Linked DNA regions of Homo sapiens. Changing the gene in region 2 together with the main gene of any one other region gives a genetic interaction. Each region holds a gene or a part of one and is shown on either strand. Other genes may lie near its edges.

The links.
Region 1: of XAF1 (region 2) and HIPK2, changing one suppresses a phenotype caused by changing the other (phenotypic suppression), as found in Homo sapiens cells (one study listed by BioGRID).
Region 3: of XAF1 (region 2) and SIAH2, changing one suppresses a phenotype caused by changing the other (phenotypic suppression), as found in Homo sapiens cells (one study listed by BioGRID).

The regions. Positions count from the first base shown.
Region 1 is NC_000007.14:139,571,999-139,579,584, forward strand, and holds part of HIPK2 (homeodomain-interacting protein kinase 2), read right to left. Parts: intron 3,291-7,586; coding exon 3,130-3,290; intron 1,400-3,129; coding exon 929-1,399; 3' UTR 1-928.
Region 2 is NC_000017.11:6,751,260-6,759,639, reverse strand, and holds the start of XAF1 (XIAP-associated factor 1), read right to left. Parts: upstream 3,595-8,380; 5' UTR 3,562-3,594; coding exon 3,530-3,561; intron 1,552-3,529; coding exon 1,416-1,551; exon of another isoform or gene 1,298-1,415; coding exon of another isoform or gene 1,015-1,297; exon of another isoform or gene 872-1,014; coding exon of another isoform or gene 681-871; intron 385-680; coding exon of another isoform or gene 166-384; exon of another isoform or gene 1-165. UniProt on the Homo sapiens protein: Seems to function as a negative regulator of members of the IAP (inhibitor of apoptosis protein) family. Inhibits anti-caspase activity of BIRC4. Induces cleavage and inactivation of BIRC4 independent of caspase activation.
Region 3 is NC_000003.12:150,740,625-150,746,755, forward strand, and holds the end of SIAH2 (E3 ubiquitin-protein ligase SIAH2), read right to left. Parts: intron 2,075-6,131; coding exon 1,517-2,074; 3' UTR 501-1,516; downstream 1-500. UniProt on the Homo sapiens protein: E3 ubiquitin-protein ligase that mediates ubiquitination and subsequent proteasomal degradation of target proteins.

The DNA.
Region 1 (7,586 bases), on a different chromosome or scaffold from region 2:
GAACACAAGGTAGGAGACAAGGGTGCTGAGTGCTACATTCTACTAGGGTGTCTGTGACGACCGCTAGCCCTACGCTACGCGACTAGGGGTGGATTCAAAGAGAAAATACATTTTCAGAAAAGAAAAAAACCTAAAGTTTGCAACACACATTATTAATGACATTTGAGAAACAACGTTGCTTAGGGATTTATCCAGAGTGCTCAGAAAAAGAAAACTCGCCCCGCGCCCCCGGGGGCCTTCCAGCAGCCTGGCCGTCCCCCGTCTTTCCTGACTAGGGAGCCCGGACTGGGCTTCGCCAATCCCACACCAGCTCCAAACATCAGCCTCCTCAGGCTGCAGCCCGACATTCTGGAGGGCTGTTGACCCTTTCGAGTTCTGGAAAAATCCCTAAATCTTATGTTCAATTAATTAAAAATCTATTTGATTTCCATATCAGGTGTCCCTGACAGCAGTCTTCCGTATCACTTGCTGCCATATGAAAATAATCTTTGAAAAGTTCATAAAGTTCTTCAAAAACTGGGGCCCCCCGTTTCTGGAATCTTCCTGTTGCTCTCTTCTCCTTTCCAGTTTGGCGTAGAATGGGTTCTTGAGCTGGGTTTTTTGTTATTGACTTTTTTTTTTTCCTTTTTCTTTTTTAAAATAAAAACCATAGATTTCCCACCCTCTTTAATCCCTTCCTTTTAAAAATGTTCTCTTCTCTGCTCTACGTCCTCCCACTTCCCGGTTCAAGTTTCACTGGTGTCCCGACCCGTCCCCCTGCCCTCTGCCCCCCCCCCCCCCCCCGCCCCTGCCCCGTTTGCATTGTTTGTGTGCGGCATCTTCAGTATAAAAGGCCAGCGCCCACGGTCCCAGGAGCGCCTCCCTCCTTCTCTCCCTCCTCCCTCGGGCCATTCTCTCCCTCCCTCCCTCCCTCCCTCCCCTCCAGTGTTTATATGTAAGGGTACTGGTTGACCTTGGCGGGGCTCAGTGGGTATCCAGTGTAGACGGTGGAGGCTGGCGAGGCGCTGATGTAGGTCTGGTGGGCAAATTGGGCTGGATACTGACTCGGGTGGATGGTGGGCGAGGGCAGGACCCGGGGGCCCATGCTCACGGGGACCTGGTGGACGATGCTGGCTGGGTAGGCAGTGTGCTGCACGGTGTGGCGCGCAGAGCCTTGCGAGGCCACCAGGTGGGCCACGGTGCCGGTGGAGCCCAGGGCCGCCGGCGCAGTGTAGGTGTAGAGGTGGGGCTGGGTGGGGAGGTGGGCAGCGGCAGCGGCTGCAGCCAGATGCGGGTGCACAGTGCCGTGGCTGGGGCTGTTGTGCGGGAAGGAGTACGGAGCCTGGGCCATGGTGGGAGTGATGTAGGCCTGCTGCCTTCGGTGGCTCCCAGTGCGGTCCGTGGTGATGTGCTGCTGAGCCTGGGGAGGAGAGGCACCAAGAGAGACGTCAGGGGCCGACACATGGGGAGGAAGGAATGGGAGGAGGGGCAGGAGGGCAGGGAGGAGGAAGAGAAGGGAAAGACTCCAGAAGTAATAGAAGGGGCTTCCCTCTGTGTGTTGAGAAAGTAAAAATTTACTTGGGACCTGGCGCAGTGGCTCACGCCTGTAATCTCAGCACTTTGGGAGGCAGAGGTGGGCGGATCACCTGAGGTCTAGAGTTCGAGACCAGCCTGGCCAATATGGTGAAACCCCGTCTCTACTAAAATACAAAAAAATTAGCCGGGCATGGTGGCACGTGCCTTGTCTGTAGTCCCAGCTATTCGGTGGGCTGAGGCACAAGAATCACTTGAACCTGGGAGGTAGAGGTTGCAGTGAGCTGAGATCACGCGAGTGCACTCCAGCCTGGGTGACAGAGTGAAACTCTGTCTCAAAAAAAAAAAAAAAATTTACTTGGACTGAGAAAATCCCGACTTGGCCTGCCACTCACTGGGCTGGGATGATACACGGATAAAGCCAGCTGCAAAGTTATAGGAGAACATATTTCTCCCAAGGACGTACAGAAGCTGTGAAGTATCAGGATGCCCCAGGCTGGAGTGCAGTGGCATGAACCTAGCTCACTGTAGCCTTGAACTCCTGGCCTAGAATGATCCCCCCGCCTTGGGCTCCCGAGAAGCTGGGACTACAGGCGTGAGCCACCGCACCCGGCCAGGACACTCTCTTTGAGCAGCAGTTGCTTTCTTACTCACTGTAAAATCTTGTTCTCAAAATTATTGGCTCTCACAACATCTCTACAAAAAATTTTGAAAATTAGCTGGGTGTGGTGGCTCATGCCTGTAGTCTCAGCTACTCGGGAGGCTAAGGTGGAGGATTACTTGAGTCCAGGAGGCAGAGGCTGCAGTGAGAGCCATGACAGTGCCACTGCACTTGAGCCTGGGTGACAGAACAAGACCCTGTCTTAAAAAAAAAAAGTTGGCTCTCAGAAGCGTTGCTGTTTGAAGTTCTGTCAGTCCAAATAAAATAGCCCTCTTCTACCTGGTGAACCTAAGTCACGTGACAGAGACACGGGCTCCACTGATGACCTGGGGCAGCACTTCAGATGAGGGGCTCTGAACACAAACACCCCATTTATCTCACTTTGTTTCTAGAGAAACAGGGCCCTGAGTCCACCACGTGAGTCAGGCCTGATGCCGAGCCCTTGACACAGACAGCCCTGCACCCACAGAAACTCAGGTCACTCACATTTCACCTCAACCCACCCCCCTTCCTCCAGGTCCTGGGACAAATCTTACCCTTGACTTGGGGGCTGTGGTGTGCGGGCCCTCCCTGCAATGAGTCGGATGCAGGTCTGTCCCTGATGTCCCAGGCCGACAGGGCCGGGACACAGTGCTCTACCCTTTGCTGGGTTGAAACAGCAGTATGTGGGCCATCCTATTTTTAAGCTCTGGCACCATGTCACTAAGGGCTTTGTAACATTAGACAAGTCGCTTTGCTTTGGGCCAGCACTCTGTGCACTGGTGATATCAACTTCCCCAAGGGTGACCTGTGGTAGAAAAAGCCACCAGAGGTCACCAAGGGCATGTGCTGCCACCCGTGGCCAGGACTGCAGCCCTGTGAGGTGGGTGAGGGGCCGCCACAGCAATCCTCTCTGAAGCGGAAGGATGAGGGGATGGGGGCCCTGCCTGGCCTGGGGCGCCAGCTGTGGGGCTTACCTGGCTGAGATTGAGTGGCTGCTGCTGCTGGAAGTGGGGGCCCGGCCGCTGCTGCCGGTAGGTGATGGCTCCAGATGAGCTCCCTGAAGAGTGACCGCTGGTGGAGGTCACGTTGCTGGAGGACTTGGACTTGTAGGAGGACGAGTGGTGACTGGTGTTGACTGTGGCGGGAGGAGAAAGAGGTCAGATCAGTGGCAGGGTCCCAGCTGCCCAGAAGATGCTACCCCACCAGAGAACAGTGGTCTTCCAGGAAGAAACATGTGCCTGAGGCCGGGCAGTAACAAATCAGCCTCATCTCCCCCGGACCCACTAGGACTTTGCCTTGACTCTGGATGCAGTGGGGCTCTGGCTCACTCCCTCGGCTGGGAGGGTGGTCGGGGCTGCATGAGGGAATGAAGCAAGGGAAAGCGGAAAAGAATCAGGAGAGGCAAGGTGGGCTGGTGGCCTAAGGCCAGGCCCAGTGCCGTTCCTCTGGGAGGTGTTACTTTCAGCATCTGGAAAATGGGTAGGAGAGATCTGCTATAATTTGAATGTGTTCCCCAAAGTTCTTGTGTTAGAAACTTAGTCCCCAGTGCAAGTGTTTAGGGTGGGGCCAGTAAGGGATGTTAGGTCCTGAGGGCAGAGCCCTCATGAGTGTATGAGTTCATCAGTGCATTAATATTATCTCGGGAGTGGGTTAGCTATTGAGAGATTGGCTTTTTTGATGAAAACAAGTCTGGCCCCCTCACCCTCATGCTCTTTTGTCCTTCTGCCTCCTGTGCTAGGAAGATGCAGCACAAAGGTCCTTGCCAGATGCTGGCATCCTGTTCTTGGACTTCCAGTCTTCAGAATCGTGAGCCAAATAAACTTCTATTGATTATAAATTACCCAGTCTCAGGTACTCTGTTACAGCAACACAAAATAGACTAAGACAGGATCCCTGCTTGGTCCCCACCATGGGTGACTATGAGTATCAGAGGAGACAGTGTCTGTGGTGGGACCTAATAAACTACTAGAAGCTAAAATAACCCTCAGAGTCACCTGGTCCAGTTACCTGCCTCTAGGCAGGATGAGACTAAATCATCCGGGGAATGGCCCTGTGAGCCAAACATGGCCAAGCACAAAACTGCCTCCATGTTATTGCCAAGGGGGCTGAAGAGTGGAAAAAACACTGCAACCCTCCAGAGGTGACCTCATGGTCAGCAGGTGGCTCCATCAACAGTTCTCAAATGTAATTCCTGCATCTTGTTCAGTGCAGACTCTGGCCAGCAGCTCTGGGGGGCCCGAGCACCTGCATTTCTGACAAGCTCCCAGGGGGTGCCAGTGCTGCTGCTTGGGGGACCACGCTCTGAGTAGCCAGGGGCTCTGAGAGAGGTGGGTTAAACCCTGAGCTGGATGGCTTCCATGTTACCCAGCCAGAGAGCCAGGGGAGCCAGGAGCCTCTTCAGAGCCCAGTGGTTTTAACTCATCCAAGTATTTTCTGAGCTCCTGCCCTGTGCTAAGGACGGTGACTGTGTACCACCAGGGACGGGGGTGGCAGGGAGAAGGCTGAGAGCGTGAATAAGGAGGAGGCATCACAGATCACGCAGATGAGGTGGCGAGGCCAGAGGATAAACCAGATGAAGACGCTGACAGTCAGGGACAGCCCAAGTCCAAGAAGGCTGATGGAACAGGACAGGGCAGGACAGGGCATGAGTGTCCAGCCCAGCAGGGGCAAGAGCCCCAGAGGGCGGGAGCTCTGCTGCCGAGTGGGGGCCATCTCCCCACCCCAGCTTGGGGAGTTCTGCAGACAGGACCATCACCCCTTGATAAAAGCAGAAGAGATGCTTTACTAGCCCCCCATGTCCCTGTGCCTCAGCTCTCCTCCAGGAGAGGGCTGCCTAACACACAGTGCAGTATTAATACACACCTAAATGAAATTTCCAATCAAATGCACCCAGATGCACCAGTCATAGCCATTCATTAAATGCAAGCACTTTTGTAATGGCAAAAGCAACAAACAGACCCAGACTAGTGAGAAGATACTGGGCTTCCTTTTTTTTTTTTTTTTTTTTTTTTTGAGATGGAGTTTCACTCTTGTTGCCCAGGCTGGAGTGCAATGGTGCGATCTCGGCTCACTGCAACCTCTGCCTCTCAGGTTCAAGTGATTCTCCTGCCTCAGCCTCCCAAGTAGCTGGGATTACAGGCACCCGGCACCACGCCTGGCTAACTTTTTTGTATTTTTAGTAGAGACAGGGTTTCACCATGTTGGCCAGGCTGGTCTCAAACTCCTGACCTCAGGTGATCCACCTGCCCTTGGCCTCCCAAAGTGCTGGGATTACAGGCGTGAGCCACCGCGCTGGGCCAACACTGGGCTTCTTTAGGAGCAAACTGCATAATGGCCTAGGAAAGTGTGGGAGGCAGAAAATTCCAGATACCTTTCTCTAACTTCAATGACAACGGAAGCAGAAAAAGAGGGGTTTAGTAAGTGAAGGCTACGACAAAGCAGCCTGAAGACTGTGTGGTTTGTGTTGTATAGTTAGAAACCATAGTTACAACAAGCATTGCTTCTGTTCCTTAAACGCTAAAGAACAGTAGAGTTAATGGAGAAGAAAACATCTTCCAGGTGGAAAGACAGGCAGATGGTCCCCCACCAAGAAGGGCAGGGCAGACCAGGGAATGAACAAGAGCCTGGCGCTGGGGCTGGGGGCTGTCCTGCCTCCTTGGGCAACCAGTCCTGCTGGGGTGAGATGTGCACAGAAACAATACTGATTTTTTTTTTTGAGATGGAGTCTTGCTCTGTCTCCCAGGCTGGAGCGCAGTGGTGTGATCTTGGCTCACTGCAACCTCTGCCTCCCAGGTTTAAGTGATTCTCGTGCCTCAACCTCCCAAGTAGCTGGGATTACAGGCATGCACCACCACGCCCAGCTAATTTTTTTTTTGAGACAGAGTCTCGCTCTGTCGCCCAGGCTGGAGTACGGTGGCGTGATCTCAGCTCACTGCAGCCTCCGCCTCCCGGGTTCAAGTGATTCTCCTGCCTCAGCCTCCCGAGTAGCTGGGACTACAGGCGCCCACTGCCACACCCAGCTAATTTTTGTATTTTTAGTAGAGACGGGGTTTCACCATATTGGCCAGGCTGGTCTCGAATTCCTGACCTTGTGATCCACCTGCCTTGGCCTCCCAAACTGCTGGGATTATAGGCATGAGCCACCGCGCCCAGCTGCTAATTTTTGTATTTTTGGTAGAGACAGAGTTTGACCATGTTAGCCAGGCTGGTCGTGAACTCCTGACCTCAAGTGATTTGCCTGCCTCAGCCTCCCAAAGTGTTGGGATTACAGGCGTGAGCCACTGTGCCCAGCCATGGTACTGATTCTTAGTCTAAGAACCAGACTGAGGAAGACTTTGCCCAGGAAAAAGGGAGCGCATTTTAAGAGAGAAAGGTAATGAGTAACCTCCTTTCCGCCATCCTTTGTTGATTTGAGCACTTCATGTGTTGTATCTTGTACTCAGTTATTTTTCTTCATTAAGTTTCTGGAATGTGCTTGAAATATTTTTATCACCTTGACTTTCTATGGAGGACAGCTAAATTCCTTTTTTTATTTTGAGGTGGAGTCTTGCTCTGTCGCTCAGGTTGGAGTGCAGTGGTGCAATCTCGACTCACTGCAACCTCTGCCTCCCAGGTTCAAGTGATCCTCCAGCCTCAGCCTTCCGAGTAGCTGGGATTACAGGTGTGTGCCACCAAACCTGGCTATTTTTTGTATTTTTTAGTAGAGATGGGGTTTTGCCATGTTGGCCAGGCTGGTCTCGAACTCCTGATCTCAGGTGATCTGCCCCACCCTTGGCCTCCCAAAGTGCTGGGATTATAGGCGTGAGCCACCGTGCCGGACAGCTATATTTCTGTGATTTATATTTTTTGGAAACCTTGCTGGACTTTAGGATTACTGCCTGGTGACACTGAAAAGCGTAAGGAAGCCCTAGGAGAGGAAAGATGAAATAACTGAGTATGGGAAAGAGCTTTGGCCAGGGAATCCAGTCATTCGCCAAAATGCGGTGCTATTGTTCCACAGAGCCCCAACTCTAAAGCAGTCCACATTTGAGGAAGGTGCCCAAAGTAGGGGTGTTCAAAGGACGAATCAGGTAAAATGTTTCATATGAAGGGAGAGGCAGCAAGAACATATTGCAAGATGTCCAAAGACAGATCTACACCTCACGTTCAGAAGCAAGAATTCGGAGCATTCATTTTGGGGCCTGAGCATCTTAGGTGAACTGGAAGGCTCATACTGTCTCAATGAAGTATCCTATGGGTGGTTAGTGTAAAAGGAGAGAATCTGGTCATTCTTGGGGCAGAGGTGCTAAATATTAATGAGCCATGCATGGAAACGACCAGGCCCTTGATTGAATTCGGTTGGATCAATTCTATTACAAATCCCAGGGCGATGAAATCAAAGTCAAAGAGGAGACGCCTGAGGCTGGAGCCAGCAAGAAAGAATGCTGATTAA
Region 2 (8,380 bases):
ACACACACACCAGATGTGGGTCCACCCAGCACCCAGGGCCTGCCCCACATCCACTTTGGCTCACAGTGTTCCGGGTTTGGGTCTGTGAACTCCCAGAGGGCAGGGATCCGATGTGGCTACCTCAGTGTCTCTCTAGCACCCCGCCCAGTGTTCAAGAAGTGTTTGTCAGACCAGTCTGAGTTGGCAACGGCTGCCTGAGCTTGAGTATCTCCAGAGAGACAGATCAGGGGCCCCAGGAGGAATGGACATGGAAAGGCGGGAAACAGGGCTCCATCTGACTGCCTTCCAGGACCTTCCTTTTTCACATCCTCTCTTTACAGATCTCAAGAGAACAGCCAGTCTTTCCTGAAACCAGAACCTCTTGCCTATGCCAGATCCATAAGCCTGTAGGGAAAGGATTGGAAATAGGAAAACTGGAGGTAGACTCAGATTAGCATGAAAAAGGCAGGATTAACATTTCCTTTCCATGGGCTTTGTGTGGAGGGGCTAAATGACTTCCCATGGCCCTCAAGTGAGTCTCTGCCTGGGGGACTGGACCCTTGCCTTAAGTCCCCAGCCCTCACCCCAACTCCCGGACCCCATCTCTCCTGCAGGGAGGACTGGAGCCATTCCCTGACTCCCAGACCCCTTCTTTCTTGCAGGGAGGATGGAACACTTGCCCCTCCCAGACCCCATCTCACCTGCAGGGAGGACTGGACCCTCGTCCCCCAACTCTCAGACCCCATCTCTCCTGCAGGGAGGACTGGACCCACTCTGTGACTCCCAGATCCCATCTCTCCTGCAGGGAAGATGGAACACTTGCCCCTCCCAGACCCCATCTCACCTGCAGGGAGGACTGAACACTCTCCTTGACTCCCAGACCCCATCTCACCTGCAGGGAGGACTAGACCCTCGTCCCCCAACTCTCAGACCCCATCTCTCCTGCAGGGAGGACTGGACCCACTCTGTGACTCCCAGACCCCATCTCTCCTGCAGGGAAGATGGAACACTTGCCCCTCCCAGACCCCATCTCACCTGCAGGGAGGACTGAACACTCGCCTTGACTCCCAGACCCCATCTCACCTGCAGAGAGGACTGAACACTCGCCTTGACTCTCAGACCCCATCTGTCCTGCAGAGAGGACTGAACACTCGCCTTGACTCCCAGACCCCATCTCACCTGCAGAGAGGACTGAACACTTGCCTTGACTCTCAGACCCCATCTCACCTGCAGAGAGGACTGAACACTCGCCTTGACTCTCAGACCCCATCTCTCCTGCAGAGAGGACTGAACACTTGCCTTGACTCCCAGACCCCATCTCACCTGCAGGGAGGACTAGACCCTCGTCCCCCAACTCTCAGACCCCATCTCACCTGCAGGGAGGACTGAACACTCACCTTGACTCTCAGACCCCATCCTCCCTGCCGCCTCCTCACCTGCTGGTGCTCAAGCTTGCAGTGCTCCTCCATGGTTTCCTTGGGGACAGGCTCCTCACACTCCGGACACAGGACCAGGAACCGCAGGCAGTAAGCCTCATGGAGGGTGAAGTTGGCAGAGACTACATGTCTTTTACTACAGGGTCAAGGTGTGGGGATAGAAAAATAGACTTATTTTCATATTATAAAACATGGAGCTGTATTTCATACCCAGGGCTAGATCTCCAGAGGCCTTAAGCACTGAACATGTGATGATGATGACACCACCTGCCCCACACTCCCTGTGTGGGTCCAAAAGTCAGAACAGTGAGGCAGCATCTAATAAGAATAAGGATGATCTACAGAGCTCTTACATTGCTGGGGCAGGGCATGGGAAGGAGCAGGAGGGAGGAATTACAAAGGGGCATGGGGAGCTTTTGGGGTGACAGGAAGCTTCATTATCTCAATTACGGGGATGGTGTTTCATGGATGTATATAACTTAGGCCAAAACTTATCAATTGCTACCCTTTAAAATGTGAGGTTTATTGTAGGTCAATTATACCTCTATAAGGCTGTTTTTAAAATGAAACATTTCATTTTAAATAATGTAAATAATTAAATTATTTCAATTTAAATAATTTGAGAGAAGTGCCAAATTCTCTTGAATCTTTTTTCTTGTTTTCTGGTGCCCCTGTTTGGTCCACAGTGTTAGGAACGCAGCCCTGCTAGGCTCACGCTTCCTGCCAGGGCCATGCCAACTTCCAAAATCTCCAAAGCGAGAGCTTCCCAAGTCTCCCCTGCCTTCAGGTTCACCTGCGCTAACTCACAGAGACTCCGAGGTTCTTCCTGGAGACCACAGTGAAGGAAGGGTTCTGAGCCTCCCACTTCCTGGGCAGGGCATTTTTCTCTAACCGTCCTTTTTGCCAAGAAGTGCCCCCTTTTGGCTGGGTGTGGTGGCTCATGCCTGTAATCCCAGCACTTTGGGAGGCCGAGGCGGGTGGATCACCTGAGGTCAGGAGTTAGAGATCAGCCTGGCCAACATGGTGAAACCTCATCTCTACTAAAACAATACAAAATTAGCCGGGCATGGCGGTGCACGCCTGTAATCCCAACTACTCGGGAGGCTGAGGCAGGAGAATCACTTGAACCCGAGAGATGAAGGTTGCAGTGAGCTGAAATCGCGCCATTGCACTCCAGGCACTCCAGCCTGGGCAAAAAGAAGCGAAACTCCATCTTAAAAAAAAAAAAAAAAGAAGAAGAAAGAAAGAAATGACTCCTTTCATTTCCATCAGCTCTTGCTTGTGGCAGCTTGGGAGAAGGGAAATGGGGTGGCTGTAGCCGTAAAGGCCCAGGGGACGAGAAGAGTTACATGCCCATGTTCCTGGCACAGGGGACGTGCTCCGAGAGGGACTGTCAAAGCCTCACTCCTCTTCTGCCCAGGCAGCGGGCACACAGGCAGCATCATCTTCCCTTCCTCTGCTCTCTCTCCTCTGCCTGACCTGGCCCCTTCTCCCCCTGCTCTTCCTGGGCTGGTTGAGAAACCAGAGTACTTGAAGGGTCTGGCTGGAGCAAAGCTCTCTGGGGAGGGTCCACTCAGGTCCCTGTCACAGGTAGGGAGCTTTGAGAATGGGGCTTTTTGATCGGTCAGATTCCGCGCCCCCCCTCCCGTTAGAGGTGTGGTCCCAGCCCCCTGCTCTGTCCCCCCTGCCCCGCCCCACGGCTCCCTTTCCAAGGAGGGTGAGAGTAGTCCTGGAGAATCTCCGTGGGACACTTTCTTTCACAGATGGGTGTGAAGGTCATAGTATCAGAACCCCAAATTAGGACCCAAGGTCTCACAAGTATGAGTAGCCCAGTTGGGACCACTGGCCGGGCTATTTGGCTTCAGAACTGTCCCAGAAAGCCTAACATTTGGGGGAAAGGGGCTGCAGTGAAGTGGAGGTAATGCTGCCCACCCCCACCCAGAGATTACCAAGTTTAAACCCTCCTACCCTTGGGGCCCACGGTCTCCAGCTGCTTGTCCTCCTAAGTGTTCTTATGCAGGAACCACTTTCTGCTCCCTTCAGAAACAGCCCTATGTCGTCTACGTCTCTCCCTCGCCAGCCCGGGTCTGCCGCTGGAGAAAGCACTTTCTTACCAGTTCCTGCACACCGAGAAGTCTCCTTCCATGTTCTGCTCTCTGCAGGCTTTCGGTTGAGTTTCGTTTCTTGCAGGCAAGGAAACAAAACTGAAAGTTTTCCGATGGCCCAGCCCACAGCTTCAGGGAGGGAGGAGATCTTCAGAATTCTCGGCTCAGGAGTTCCCCTTGATTCCTGAGGCTGGACCCTCCCAAGAAGCCCCTTTACAGCATGGCCAGCCCCTGCTGTCGCCCTTGGCCGTCATTCTTTGCTGCTGTCACAGCCGCATCTACCTCCCTGAGGCTGGCAGCCTGAGGCCAGGCCTCTCCTGGGCAGCACAGCAGCTTGTTCCCTCACCCTGGCTGGCTGGCTTCTCTCCGTCTGGGTCTCCATCCCTTTTCCAAACCATCCACCTCCCACCCTTCTCCCCCATCTCCGGCTCCCTTCTGGTCCTCCCCTGCAGGAAAGAGGGAACTTGCCATGTTGAGCTTGAATGCTGTTCCCTAAAAATGGCTCCTGGACTTCCAGGCGGTGAGGACCTTGCAAACAGCGTCCAGGGAGGCTCTGGGGATGCAGGGTGGTGTGAGCCCAGACCCAATCTGGTGTGTATCCTCCTGGGGGTCCTTAGAGTTTTTCCAGACCCTAGAAACAGCTGTGCTAACAGAAGAACTCTAAACAACATCTGGAGTGATGACAAGCAGGCCCAGAGAATTCCCGTGGCGTCTGCCAATGGGGTGGGTGCCGCCTCTCTGAGGAGGATAACAAGATTAAGGGAAATGTCCAGGCAGGGCTCCAGCCTCCAGGCAGGCTCTAAAATTCAGGCACTAAATGAGAAGCAGTGTGTGGTGGTACTGATGATCACAGTGATAGGAGGGAAGAATGAAAGACTGTTTCAACATTGTTCCTATGTTCCAGGCACCATTCTAAGCATTAGGTAGGCATTGTCTTCGTTTTAATCCCTCATGTAAGCATTATTAACTCCATTTTGCTATGGAAAACAGAGGCAGTGACAGAGTGAGACTCTGCCTCAAAAAAGAAAAATGAAATGAAAAAAGAGAAAATGGAGGCAGAGAGAGGCTAGGCCAATCGCTCAACATCAGAGCTGGGATTCACACCAGGTTGATATGACTCAGGTGTCTATGTACCTAACCAAGGCCCCATCCACCTCATTTGACAGCTAGTTGGGGTAGTGAGCACTTGGCTGAGAGTCAGAGACTGAGGTTTGCATCTTATCTTGTTCCCTTCCTCATCGGCTAGGCAAGCTCCTTAATCCTTCTGACCCTCACTACCCACTCCTGTCTGTCTCTGGGCAGTCTGTCAATATCAAGAATGAAAAACGAGTGGGCTTGGCTTGGTGGCTCATGCCTGTAATCCCAGCACTTTGGGAGGCCGAGGTGGGCGGATCACGAGGTCAGGAGTTCGAGACCAGCCCGACGAACATGGTGAAACCCCGTCTCTACTAAAAATACAAAAATTAGCTGGGTATGGTAGTGCTTGCCTATAATCCCAGCTACTCAGGAGGCTGAGGCAGGAGAATTGCTTGAACCCAGGAGGTGGAGGTTGCAGTGAGCCGAGATTGCACCACTGCACTCCAGCCTGGGCAACAGAACGAGACTCTGTCTCAAAAAAAAAAAAAAAAAAAAAGGGCTGTGCGCGGTGGCTCATGCCTGTAATCCCAGCCCTTTGAGAGGCCGAGGCGGGTTGATTATGAGGTCAGGAGATTGAGACCATCCTGGCCAACACAGTGAAACCCCGTCTCTGCTAAAAACTACAAAAAATTAGCCGGGCGAGGTGGCGGGTGCCTGTAGTCCCAGCTACTCGGGAGGCTAAGGCAGGAGAATGGCGTGAACCCAGGGTGGAGCCTGCAGTGAGCCGAGATCGCGCCACTGCACTCCAGCCTGGGCGACAGAGCGAGACTCTGTTACAAAAAAAAAAAAAAGAAAGAAAGACAGGAAGAAAGAAATGGAAAAGAAGGAAAAATGAAGAACTTTCTTTTCACATATTGTCTCCTGCTGAGATGGGATAGGGGTGGTGGCAGGGGTGTATAGATTGGACACCTTAGAGGAATGGAATGTGTGGCCAGGGGATAGGAGTGGAATTAGAAGTGACCATAAGTTGCTTCTCATCTACATCCTAATTTTCTTCCAAGATGTTTCCTCCTATAGACTGTCCCACCCACGCCAACCCTTCCCTTCCTCATCAAAATCCCAGCAGTTCTTCAGGACCAACTCCTATGCCAACACTGATCTAGAATCTACCTCCTTTGTCTCTGGCTTTGGTTAGTTGGCTGTGTGTCTATTGTCTCAACTCCTCCCCATCCAATCACAGGCATGGGCGATTTGAGAGCCAGCTCTTTCTGACCCACCACCCCTGCCTTCCTGGAGAGACCCGCGGGCTTTGTGCTTATTAGGCAGAGTGCAGTATTGAGCTTCGCAGTAGCAGGCAGTCAAATGCTGGCTGACCCGAATGGATGGGGTGTTTTGAGATAATTAAGCAGGGAGTTGGAAATCTCCCCCAACCCACACAACACCCCTGAGTCGGAGGGCTCTCAAAGTGGCAGCAATGGCCATTTTCTTTTCATTTCTCAAGATAACTTAGATTTCATAAAGAATATATGAATATACACTCTTTAAAAAAATGGAATGTTACAAATACAGCAATGTTTCTCTTTGACTGTCACGGCTGTTCCTGGGCCATCACTATTATTAATCAGAGAGTGTATGTAGGAACACTCTGGTTAGCACAAAAGCCTGTCCCCATTTCCACTACGACATCAATCGGTGCTGTGGGCTTGTATGATTTCATCATTCTGCCACCCGTCTTTGGCTGGTCGCCAACCCCAATCCCATTTAAAAAAAAAAAAACAAAAAACAGCTAGATGAGAAATGCTCTGTTGTGGGCTTAGAATTCCTTTCCAGGACACTGTGGCTACCCACTTGGCCGTTGTGGGGAGTTTCCGGCAGTCTCTTTGTGTCAGGCCTGTGGGTCAGGGGAGGGGGGTGAAGGTTGTCACAGGAAGCCAGTCTCTCAGACGTGAATTGGCCGGGCTGGCCATGTCACCTTTGCAGGAATCGGGGGGAAAGGGGAGCAGGAAGTCCTGGCTGGACTAGGACACAGGAATAATACACCCCTCCGTGCATTGTTTTGAAGATCAGAAGAGAAATTGTGTGAAAGCTGTACTTGTACAGCATGGAAGACAGGAAAGAATATTTAAAAAGGATTGTTTTAATAGTTTGGCTTTGAGAAGGGATCTTATTTAGGCTTTCTTCTTTTAAGGGATCACTATGCTAAGGAAGATGATGTAACGACAGAGATATTTCACTTCCCAGACAAAAATTATATGGTGCAATTGCACACACTTCTGTCGGTGGTGTCTTTAGAAGAATCCTGTGGTCAGAGTGGGCCTGAGTCCTGGGAGATGTGATCATATAGTCAGACTCCCCAAGCACAACGTGTTTGGATGGGAGTTCGTTTGTCAGACCACAGGAAATTGCATCAGATGACTAGTCTCTGGATGGCATTCAAGCCTGGGAATATCTGTGACTGTGTTTGGGGAAGACTCTAGGCCTGGCTGGGCAGCAAAGACGGGGAATGACCTGCTGGCTGCTGCTTAGTTGGCATATGAAGGGGAAGGAAGCTTGTCATTAAACTCATGGCAAGAAAGAGCAACTCCATGGCATTCTGTCTGTGTGGGGAGTGACCAGTACTTTTCTCTTCCTTTCTTTCTTTGAGAAGTCTCTTTTCACACATTCATAGTTTTGTTTTTGTTTTTTTCTTTTTCCTGGTTAAAACATCTCACCCACTTCCCCTGCCAACCCATTCCCGTCCAATCAGCAATCACAGTCCAAATGTCAAGGTCTCTTCCCTGATGTTTACAAGGGTGAGTGTTATGAGCCTTCTCCTCTTCCCAGATTACACATATTGGGTAAAGAGATGAAGTCTGTCTCTGTCACTCAGGCTGGAGTGCAGTGGTGATCATAGCTCACTGCAGCCTCGAACTCCCAGGTTCAAGCAATCCTCCTGCCTTCACACAGACTACAGGCACACACTACCATACCTAGCTAACTTTAAAAAAAATTGTAGAAATGGGGTCCCACTATGTTACCCAGGCTGGTCTTGAACTGGCCTCAAGTGGTCCTCCAACCTCGGTCTTCCAAGGTGCTGAGATTACAGAAATGTGCCGCTGCATCCAACCAATTTTTTAATAGCTTGATCATGGTATGGTCCCCTTGGTTGCTGCAAATCTCATGGAACTCAGGACAAATGACCATATATGTCAATTTTTTTGTTGTTTCTTTTTATGGTGGAGCGGGGGAGGTGAAAGAGAAAAAGTTTAGAGCTTCAGGGTCTTTTCACTCAGAATTTGGGGTGAACATACTCATATGGTTAAGTTGTGGTAATGAACAGCCACTCAGACTCTCATTTTAGGGAATAACTAGTGTTTTAATTTTTAAAAATGGAAACTTATGTTTCTTCCTACCCTGTCCTTGACATCACGTGGTCTTTCTTACAATGATTCACACTGGCTCCAAGATATTGTGTCCATCTCTTCTTCTTCTTCTTCTTCTTCTTCTTCTTTTTTTTTTTTTTTTTTTTTTTTTTTTTTTGAGAAGGAGTCTCGCTCTGTCGCCCGGGCTGGAGTGCAATGGTGCCATTTCGGCTCACTGCAACCTCCACCTCCCGGGTTCAAGCAATTCTCTGCCTCAGCCTCTTGAGTAGCTAGGATTACAGGCGTCCACCACCACATCAGGCTAATTTTTGTATTTTTAGTAGAAATGGGGTTTCACCATCTTGGCCAGGCTGGTCTTGAACTCCTGACCTCGTGATCCTTCTGCCTCAGCCCCCCAAAGTGCTAGGATTACAGGCATGAG
Region 3 (6,131 bases), on a different chromosome or scaffold from region 2:
TGCACTCCAGCCTCTGTCTCAAAAAAAAAAAAAAAAAAAAAGAAAGAAATTGGGACACTGAGGTAAGCAGCCTTCAATCCTTGCTGAGCATTTGGCCCTAATCCTCTAAATTCTTTTGAGAGTTTAGGGTTGGGACTGAGGGAGTGGGTCAGCTTGGATCAACGCCAGCACTCTGGATGTCAGCAGTGGCCAAGCGTCTTCCTTCTGACTCTGTAAAGCTGGAGCAATCCTCTTATTGCACAGGTACTGGCACTGTCAGATAGAAACGACAGCCCTGGGAGGAGACCTGCAGCACTGACAGTCAGTGGTTCAGACACATGAGCCCGGACCCCAGTGCTGTCATGGACCCGTGCCATGACCTTGGCCCAATGACTGTTTCCACAGTGGAAACAAACAGTGAAAGTTCCAACCCCAGATGTAGTGACGAAGGTTCATTGCACTTGCACACAGTAGATGCTCAATAAATACCCATTACTCAATTAGGGAAATGAAGCACAATATCCATTTTTGGAAAATATTTATTAAAAAACTAGTGAATGTGGCAGAAAAACAAAACCAACACACAGCTTTAAATAGCAAGCATATGACACACCGGTTATAAAGCTTTTCCAACTCTACTGATTTAGTCTTTCACACCAGCTACTGTTGAGGAGGGCTTCCGAGGGAAGCCACGTGTAAACGGGTCATCTGTACTAGTGGTGAGCAAAACTAATTACATGAGAACTATCAATGGCCATATGACTTGCTTTCCTAGGCAATCCACCCAAAACATAGGTGAGTGGCCAAATCTCAGGCGTGCGTTCATGTGGATCTATAGTTCTAGTTTTAATTTGAGGGTTGGGGGAAGTTAGGGGATGAAACAGTAGAAAGACAAACAGTATCGGCAGAGGGCAACCTTAAAGCACCTTTAAAATCTGGACCCTTTCCCACAATTTAACCCAGTAATTCTCAAACATTACTGTTGAAAAGAATCACCTGATGAGACTGTTAAATTGGCAGGCTCCCTAAATCTGCAATTTTAAGATAAGCACTCCGGGTGATTCAGTGTCTATTAGCCAGCCATCCAATTTCAGAAACACTGTTTAAAATGCATTAAAACAATTCCTACCTCCCACAAACAAAAGTAAAGGAATCTGCTGACAGTCACTGTGCTTTTGTCAATGTCAAGGGACCAATATGGGAAGGCAGGCAGGAAGGGGCCTCCCATTCCTAACACACTGATCTATAGAAGCCCTGTGCAACAGCCTGTCAAGTGTTGTTTAGGGAGTAAATACAATTCAATAAGAGTTGTTTTAGATCACAGAACAGCATCCAAATCACCAACAGGCCAACCCCATTCATCCCAGGTTAATGAACTTTGTTGGGTCGAAGCCAGATGGGACACTGCTGTTCAAACAAAACACGGGTAATTGTGGGTCCTGACTTGTGAAGACATATGGAATAAAACATCTATAAAAACCTTTATTAAACATAGAGCACTATGCCCAAATAATTTTGAAGGTTTACGAAAGTCACATCATGGACAACATGTAGAAATAGTAACATTGATTCCAAGGTTCCCATTATCTGCAAAAAGATGTGCTATGGCTGTGTCGAAAACAAGGCAGTCGCTGTTCATGATGGCCGCAGCCACACCGTCATGAATCGAACGGGGCGTGGCCTCCCAGGTCAATCTCCGCCGGTTCCCATTCAACTCCAGTCTGTAGGCAAAGTTCTCGGCTTGCTTGCGGGTGCCAATGAGCAGGACGATGGCAAAAAACTGCTGGTGGCCTTCGTACTTCTCTTGTTTCTCCAGCACCAGCATGAAGTGATGGCCAAAACATGACTGCATCATCACCCAGTCGACAGCCCCTGGCAAGTTAATGTCTGTAGCTAGAAAGACGATGTCTTCTCCCTGAAGGGTGGTAATGCTCTTGTGGGCGTGCATGAGATGGGACATCACAGCTTCCAGGGACCCCTGCCACTTGCAGGAAGCACCAGGACATGGGCAGGAGTAGGGACGGTATTCACATATGTCTTCATGTTCTGGTTTCTCCGTATGGTGCAGGGTCAGGGAACAGCCCGTGGTGGCATACTGCAAAGAAAGAAATGCATTGAGCCATTGGGCCTTCTCAAAACTTCTATTGCTTCAACCCTCTATGAGTACTTAACTACTCCATTTTCCTGGGCTTAAACTGTGTTCTTAACTACTTTTGCTCAAAGCAAGTGAAATATTCAAGACTAAAAGTCTCCGTCTCTATTCATCATCAATGCTGTCATGCATAAAATGAAGGGTATTTCCTGAACCAGAAATACGCTGTTTTCCATGCCCCCTGTTCCGCTGTCAAAGGGATCAGAACTAAAGTTCTCTTACTGTGCACATCTCAAAATTGTTGAGCAAGCCCTATAAAAGCTGGTCTTCCCCATATTTTCTGTGAAGCTGTTTTTTAAAGAATTCAATTGCTTGGGTGGTGGGGATGGGGTTGGGCAAGGAATATTATATTATCCCAAGATTAGTTTTCACATATAGACAATATTAACAACAGTATAATTCTGTCGTCCCCCTCCACTGCTTTCTGGCTCAAACTGGTGACTGGCAGGCAGGCCGTGGGGAAGGCTGCCCTTTGGTTCCTTGCTCTTTGCTGCTGGCATCACCAGGCTAGGGCAGCGGAGGCCTGGAGACCCCTTCATACAGCTAGAAATATTACCCCACTGCATCCTTTTGACCTTCCCTCTGGGGGGCTTTGCCCATATTTTTTGGGTGGAAGGAAATCACATCCAAGAGCTACTTAACTAACTCAGAAGACTACTGGTCAGTCTGGTTCTGGCCAGTAGAGGTTAACATGAGAAGGGCCTAACCCTCCTCTCAAAGCTTGCTGACCCCCAACACTTCCTCAGATTCAAGAGCACATCATTTCATGGTCAGGTATGTCAGGTCCTCACAACAGGCCCGGGAGGAAGCAGAACTAGACAAGTTTGCTGACATGATCAGTCTGCCCCTCAGACACTGCCTTAATAGGGTAGGAGAACAAAATCATTTTCTCCCTTGCACTTGGGATGACATTCCTAATGGATAAATCATACCTGCCGTGGCAAAAGACCACACCAAGAGGAACTGAACTTCTACTCCAGACTCTCACAAGGATGACAGTGTTAATTCCTAGATACCAGATGGAGATCAGCCCACAAGTAGACACCTGCCCTGAGTACTAAGCTGTTCTGTAAAGAATTAAGAAACCTGAATCACCTTTTCAGGTGAAACTAGGTGTCAGCCTTAGACCCCTGGAGCACAGAATGGCAGGGGAACTGTCTGGCTAACTACACTTGGATTCCCCTGCTCCACTGAGACATGAAGGCACCAAATAAGGGCAAGGCCAGGTCATTTTTCTAAGATGCTATGTCCAGTTGCTAAAAAAAAAAAAAAGCACCACTGCTGTTTTTGCTTCTCTCTACCCTGCTTTATAGAATAATCCCCCTTTTAAACTTGAAGTCGGTCAAATTCTAACCTTCATAGATGAATTTATCACTAGCAACAAGCAGATGGTATGCACTATGTGACTTCTCCATACAAGACGCTAAGTTACAGTCACTCAGAGGATTCCGAAGCAAGGATGACAGCCTCCACTCTCAGGGGGATTAGTCTCCCCTAATCGGAAAGGAGAGTGGCTTAAAGAAAGAAATGTAGCTCATCCTCCAACCCCCACTTCCCCATACCTAAGCGGATTATAATATTTAACAGAAATTGGCAGAAATATTTCAGTTACTTATTTGCCCATAGGAATTGTTTGTTCATCTTTTAAAACTCTGAACTAATTTCTAAAGCCTGGCTGTAAAAAAACTCACTCAGGAGAAACAAATTTATTTATCCATGTGTATTCATACTTTGTGTTCCTTACTTTATAAGGCCTGAAAAACAAATCCCTATTAACTGTGTTTTAAATCTAGGGTGTGGCTAGGAATACAGAGCCTCCTCATGTTCTTCTGTGAGTGATGGGTGAGACATTTCTGTCCAGTTTAAAAAAACACACACACACAATAAAAATAGCAAGAAATAGCCCAGAGCCTGGCAGAGTCTCGAAACAAGCTCTCAATATCTGAAGATGTTTCAAGACGAACTTTTCCCCATAGCTGCCCAGGAATGAGATGAACTTTGGCCAATGGCACCCAGAAAGGTACCAGCTGCACCTCTGCCCAAAGTCCCAAACCACTCCTCATTCATGACGAACTCAACATTTACAGCAAATATTTATCACTTGGCAATCATTTTATAACTTTCCCCACTCAAGTAGGAGTATTTATACTCTGAATTATTTGATTTGCCTTACAAATCACATATTCAACACTTCTTTCCACCCAAATATACAGAACAGGGAACCTCCCCAAACTGCACAAATAGAAAAGGCATTACTTTGCATTTGTGTGGACAACGATCTCATGTTTTTTCATAAGGATCTTGCTACATCCTCTATTAACTTAAATAAATAGTTTTAAAGCCTTAGGTGCTTACTCTGCTTTTACTGAACAAGCAGAACTTTCATGGCAATCTATCCCTTCTCTTTCCATCATGGGTAAGGTTCATGTCTTCATAACAACTGGTGCCACTTTTATGATGACTAAAGTCTAAATTTTAACCCCCTACACACACACACACACACACACACACACACACACACACCCCACATTTCATACTTCAAGCAGTTTTGGCATTGTTCTGGAATGGCATGTCAGAGCACCATGGGTGTTTTGTCACTTTCATCAGGGGCTCTCATCCAGGGATCCGAGGGAGGACTTTAGTAGTTTGTGAATTCCCCAAGACTGTATGTAAAACTGTCTAGGTGCTTCTGAGCAGCAAAGCCAAGTCTCACTGGCCCCTGGCCTTGGGCTTGTGTTTTCTTTTCTTTTTTTTTTTTGAGATGGAGTCTTGCTCTGTCACCCAAGCTGGAGTGCAGTGGCGCGATCTCGGTTCACTGCAAGCTCCGCCTCCCGGGTTCATGCCATTCTCCTGCCTCAGCCTCCCAAGTAGCTGGGACTACAGGTGCCTGCCACCACACCCAGCTAATTTTTTGTATTTTTAGTAGAGACGGGGTCTCACCGTGTTAGCCAGGATGGTCTCGATCTCCTGACCTCGTGATCCACCCGCCACGGCCTCCCAAAGTGCTGGGATTGCAGGCTTGAGCCACTGTGCCCAGCCTGGGCTTGTGTTTTCTTGAAGAGCTCCAAGGGTTTCTAAGAGTTTCCAGGGCTGAGAACCTCTATCCTAGAGCACACAGAAGGAATCAGCTGTGGATCCTGCCCTTGTGGTGTTTCCAGTTGAGAAAGACCATATAATAAATTTAACAACTATGTAAAGGAAGACCAGGAGGGCAACAGGTGATTTCAAGGTGGGACAGGGTGAGGAGGACATGGTAAGGAAAGCTTTATTGTAGACAAGTGGATTGTGGATGGAGTTGTTCCATCTGGTTCTAGCACAGGGTGAGTGGAGGAAACAGTGGGGATAAAACCTCAAGGAGGCCAGGCGCGCTGCTCACACCTGTAATCTCAGCACTTGGGTAGGCTGCGGCAGGTGGATCACTTGAGGTCAGGAGTTCAAGACCAGCCTGGCCAATATGGTGAAACCCTGTCACTACCAAAAAATATAAAAAATTAGCTGGGTGTGGTGGCATGCACCTGTAATCCCAGCTACTAGGAAGGCTGAGACAGGAGAATAACTTGAACCCAGGAGGAGGAGGTTGCAGTGAGCTGAGATCGTGCCACTGCATTGCAGCCTGGGCAACAGACTGAGACTCTGTCTCAAAAAACAAACAAACAAACAAACAAACAACCTAAAGGAGAAGGCAGGTGAGGGACCTTCCTGACAATGGAGTTTATTTTGAGTTTCTCGACAGTGGTGCTATTGACATTTTGGACCTGATAATTCGTTGTTGTGGGGGCTGTGCTGTGTACCGCAGGATGTTTAGCAGCATCCGTGGTCTCTATTCATTAGATGCCAATAGCAACCACCCCCTGCCCCTCAGTTGTGACAACCAGAAATGTCTCCAGCTCTCCAGGCATGGCCAAATGTCACGTAGGGGGCAAAATGGCCCCAGTTGAGAACCACTGACTCTGATAAGAACTACTCATTCCAATTCTCAAGAATGACAAAACCTGGCTTC